2 separate regions of the Homo sapiens genome follow, and region 2 is linked to region 1. Evidence: fine-mapped expression QTL. Tissue or cell type: whole blood. Region 1 holds a variant in brackets; the other region holds the start of a gene. All regions are shown on one strand. Distances are from middle to middle.

What was found. PIP is the estimated chance that this variant, and not a neighbour inherited with it, causes the effect.
Region 2: BCLAF3 starts here. The variant in region 1 is fine-mapped to the expression of BCLAF3 in whole blood (TOPMed, PIP 0.94).

What each region holds. Positions count from the first base shown.
Region 1 is chrX:20,214,425-20,217,184 of GRCh38, reverse strand. All of the region lies in intron 2 of RPS6KA3 (ribosomal protein S6 kinase A3), which reads left to right. Among named protein-coding and RNA genes, the nearest start is that of RPS6KA3, 51 kb to the left of the region's middle. The variant A/G (reference allele first, on the strand shown) is at 1,673.
Region 2 is chrX:19,989,598-19,992,097 of GRCh38, reverse strand. It overlaps BCLAF3 (BCLAF1 and THRAP3 family member 3), which reads left to right and starts at 1,037. Exons shown (of 12, transcript NM_001367774.2): 1 at 1,037-1,190. LOC729609 (a long non-coding RNA gene) reads left to right here and starts at 2,319. Exons shown (of 2, transcript NR_024440.1): 1 at 2,319-2,412. RefSeq lists silencers at 695-1,124, 1,165-1,214, 1,285-1,654.

The DNA.
Region 1 (2,760 bases):
AAATAAACTGGGTGGCTTTTTGTGTGACTGAGGGACACCAAAAGATCCACCTGCCCATAAATTTTCTCTTCATTTTTCCATGATGTCCAAAATGACACTCTTTACAGAATTGTAAAAGTATATGTTTCAACTGAACTGACTTTGTTTTATCCATCAGGGGTCATATCTCAACAGATATTTATCTAATAATAAATCTTTGAGATCCAGGTAAATTGTCTTAGTATCTCTAACACCTAGTACAATACCTGGCCCATAATTTGAATGGCCTTCCAACAAAAAGGAATGGTCCTAACAGAGTATGTCATAGATCAGAAACATTTTCACTGGGACCAGGCATTCAGGAAAAAGCAAAAGCAGGAGAGCCGCCTGAATTTTAGTTCTCTCTTGACCTCATTCTTCTCTACCTCTCTTTCATACTCTCTGATTTAAACTCTAGTGTCCAGGTGTGCTCCTGCTGTGGCCTTTGTACTGGCTTGTCCCTCTCCCAGGAATGCTTTTCCCCCAGGTGCTTGACTTTCTCACCTCCCTCAGGTCTTTCTCAAATAGCATCTTCTTAATAAAGCCTGCCCTGACTTCTTTATTGAAAATTACAACCCCCCCCTTTCCATATCTGCTATTCTCATCTCTTTACTCAACTCAATATCTTTTCTTCATAGTATTTATCATGTTCTAACCTTTATTTACCTATTATTATTATTTGGTCTGTTGTCAAAACGGCAAAGTTTTTGGTCCATTTGACTTATTGTATATCCCAGCGCCTAGAAGAGTACCTAGCATGTATCAGGTACTCAAAAATAAATGTTTAAATGGATGGATGAATGAATTAGTGAATTCCCGTACATAGCTTAAGGGTATTGAACACCTAGGCTGAGGGAGGTGGCAAATGTCTGAAAGGGGTGGAAATGTAGGAAGAATGAAAGAAGACGTGATGTAGATCTGCTGCCATCCTGAAAATTTTGCCCACAGTCAGACTTTTGCTTATCAAATCAACAGTCTTTGTAAAAATAATAGCATGGAATTTATTATTACTGTTTTTAAATGCACAAAGTAAGTTTTTTGTGGTAATGAATGGACAGATATCCATTTATCATTTAAAAAACAGTTGTGCCAGAGAATGTAAAAATATGTGAGCCTCACAGAATAATTAGAATGTATATAATTTATATCTGTGTTCCAGTTTATTAACATAATATTTTTCCATAAAACTATTAATATAGCTGCTTTACCATGTACTTATAGGCAAAAATACAGTTTTACAAAATGTCAAGTCAAACTATAATTTTATGTTTTCATGTGACAGATTTATTTCAGTAACAGGTGATTTAGTGACATAAGATATGTTTGTCACATGCACATGTCAGTCTGTTCTTGGCTTATCACTGCCCTTGGAAATCTGATATTCCTTTCTGCATCCATCTCATTAGATTCCAAGTATGAGCTAGAAAAGTACATTGTTGCTTTCCTACCTGTTGTCCAAGATTGCCCAAGCATTAGTATTATGTCCTGGTTGAACCTTAGATTCATTTCTAAAATAGTCATGGTCCCATGACCTGGTGACATTAAGTACAATCTGGGCATTGAGATCTCAACCCAGGATATTTTGCCTATTATACTACTGTAATTTTCCATATATATAAAGTAGATAGAAAATAGTTTGCTGGTGTGATTAGTA[A/G]AAATTTAAGTCTTATGAAATTTAAACTTAGAAGGAACAGAAAAGCGTGTTCAGGATAAAACAGTGGCAGGTTTTTGAAACTTGAGCCAATGCCAAACTTGCCACAGGAATTGATCTTTTCTCTCTACCCTCAAGAGTATTTTCCGTACTCTCTGAGTCCTGATTTAGAAAAATATTTTATAAATCCCTGTTTGTATCCCTAAAGAGGTTTGAAATGATTGCATCTGTTTTGGGGGGAAGAGAGTAGGGAGTGGAGGAAGATGCTTTTTAAAACACACATACACACACACACACACACACTAAGAAAAGGAACACTTGAAAATGTACTTTAAGATTTGCCAGGATAAAAAATTTAGTATGAAAGTGGGAAGATAAAGTCAAGAAAGTCTCTTAGAAAGTAGAGACAGTGCTGGACATGATGGCTCATTCCCGTAATCCCAGCACTTTGGGAGGCCAAGGCAGGCGGGCAACATGTTGAGACCCTGTCTCTACAAACAAATCAAAAAATTAGCCAGGTGTTGTGGCACATGCCCGTAGTTCCAGCTACTGGGGAGGCTGAGGTGGGAGGATCACTGGAGCCCAGGAGGTTGAGGCTGCAGTGAGCTGAGATCGCACCATTGCACTCCAGCGTGGGTGACAGAGTGAGACCCTGTCTCAAAAAAAAAAAAAAAGAAAAAAAGAAAAAAAAGTGGAAACAGAAAATAGGAGAAAAAAATGACATAAAGGATTCCATTTCAGACGTACAATATTCAACTAGTAGAAGAGTCACAAAAAGAGAAGCCCTGAAAAATGGGTGGAAGGAAATTATCAAAGATATGTTAGAATTCCCCACAAAGTTAAAGAATTCAGGTCTTTAGATTATAAAGGTTCACCAAGCATCTGGCATTCTGAAGGAAAGAAGACCCTATTTATCTCACTATTGGGGAATTTCAGAAACACAAGGACAGAGAAAATCTTTAAAGCTTCCAGAAGGAAAAACCAGACCTACCAAAAAGTGTGACTAGACTAGCATCACCCATCTCATCAGCAGAACTGGATGCTAGAAGGCAATGGATCTATGGTGTCAAAGTTCTGAGCCAAGATTATTT
Region 2 (2,500 bases), 220 kb after region 1:
AGATCACACCACTGCACTCCAGCATGGGTGACAGAGATTCTGTCTCAAAATAAATAAATAAGTAAAAATAAAAAAGTGGTTGTAGTCAAAGGCTATGGGTTTAAGTTGGGTAGTGGGATTTCAACATTTAAGGTTTTAGAGATGGAGCAGTATCAAGTGATGAATATCTAGATTTTCTAGACTACGGGTGAACAAAGTAGAAGTAAAGGTCATTCGGATTGAGGAACTGAAGGAAACCAGGCTGGGTTGTGGATGTTGGATTCATTGGGAGGATGGCAGTAAATCAGATGGAGAGGAAAACTAATGCCAGACAGTCAGTAGGTGACAGTGACAAGGGAGGGCAAAAGGTGTTACTACCAGATGGCACAGAGCCTGAAAGAGCTATTTCACAAGGGGAAGAAAGAATATCAGTGTCAAGCGGAAAGCTTCAAGAGTGAAGAAGACACACTACCTTTGAGGCTGGTGCATGGAGTGTGGGAGGGGAGAAACCAAGCGAGTAGACAGAGATGAGGCAATCTTTTGAATTGGATGACGGATAGATGTTGGTACCATCCGACCATTTGGGAAGTCCAGAGGGGAGGCTTTGTTTTCCGGGAATATGCTTAATTTGAGGAGTGGGAAATGGATAGAGGGTAGGTGAATGGTTAGAGATCTGCACAAAGCTGGAAGGCCCACGGGATCAAGTTCTGCCCATGACTGAGGGGTGACCTCCAATCCCTGGGCCTTAACCCCCAGGATCCCTGGACCTGGAACGCCCATTAGGTCCCCTCCTTTCCGGCGAGAGGGCGGCAGAGGGCGCAGGCGCTCTAGCCGGACCCGGCGGGCGGGTGGCAGAGGGCGCAGGCGCCCTGGACAGAGCGGCCGCAGTGGGAACGGCCGGCAGGGGGCGCAGCGCTCTGGTCCGAGAAGCCCGGGCGGGGCACCCTCGCCGGGAGAGTAGAGGATAGGGGTCGGCTGGAGAACGGGCCCAGTGCGAGGCCGCGAGCAGTGGGCGGGGCCGGGGTGGGGGCGGGGCGAGGCGGTTCCGGAAGGAAGTGGTTCCGGGTCCCGCGGCCCGGCAGAGGTGGCTGGGGTGTCGCTGCTGTGGGAGGCGGCGGCAGAGTGAGGGGCGAGGCCCGAGGGGCCGGCGGCGGCGGCGGCGGCGGCGGCGGCGGCGGCGGCGGCGGCGGCGGCGGGGGCTTCCCGGCCGGGTGAGCGGCTCGGGGGGAGGCGGGGCGAGGAGGCCTGGGCCCGCAGGGAGGGCGTGTCCGCCACCCAGGAGGGGCGGTTCTCGGGGTGGCGGATGGGGCAGCGGGGAGGATGCGGCGGTCCGACTCGGGTTCTGTTGGGACAGCTCCTCTGCGCCCCGTAGGTCCCTCGGTCAGCGCCTTCCCTTGGGCGCGGCGACCCGGCGCGGGTTTCCAGGGGACAGCTGCCCGGCGCCCCTGAGGTCCCTCGACAGGCACGGCGACCCGGGCACCTGCTGCCGCGACCCTGATCCTCCGCCGTCGTCGGGCAGGTTGCGGTCCCCGCGGTTCCCTGCATCTGTTAAGAGGGCGGGGGCCGGGAAGGCGGTGTCCGGGGACGGTGCCCTTGTCCTCGAGGCGGCCCTGGACGCGTCGCCTGCGGGGCCTGAACCGAGGACCCCCCCGTACCCCGCTTTGTCCTGGTGAGGCGCTCCTGCCGCGCAGCGGCATCTTCCTCTGTTAACGTCGAGAATGAGTAGTGAAGGCTGCTCATTATCCTGCATTGTAAAGTAAAACTTGTCTTTTTAGAAGCGTCTCCTGAAAATTGGCGCATCTCCTGTGCTTCTCTGGGTTGTATTGGGAAACTGGGCCAGTCGCTGTCAGGACTGTCCTGTTGGTAGGTCTCGAGGGAAAGAAATGGGAGAGAAACCTACCCCGTAAATATTTTCCTACTCAGGTGCTTTTCGAACTACCTATTAGGTGATTGCCTTTTTTTTTTTTTTTTTTTTTCCTGGAACAAATTACAAACTGCAGGTAGAAATCAGGAAGGCCTCTTTAGGCTCCTCGCCAGGCAGCCTTTTTAGCATTTTTCTGAATGTGAACAGGTCCAAACGACAGAGCAGAATTTGAAAAGAAAGGTTTTGCTGCAGATTCATAACGAGGACTTTATTTTTCATTGGTATTTTAATGGTAATGGTATAGCAATGTTTTATTTTTAATGTTTTTTTTAAATGGCTACTAAAATTTTATTTTGAAATCACAGCTGTTTCAGTCACCCCCAAGAAACCTTTAAAACGTCTTATTAGAAACATTTTTATATATAGGAACATTTAGCCATTTATACACATTTCTAAGATAGAAATCACAATGAAGATACGTTGTTTCACTATTCCAAGTTCCAAGTAACCATGGTGAATATGGTTTCCCCATTCCAAGTAACCATTGTGAATGTGGTTATACACCTCCAGTCTTTTTCTATGCAGAGCTTAATACATGAGTTTTTCTAAAGTGAATTCTCTTTTGTAATTATCTTTTTCTGACTAGATAGCATGCCA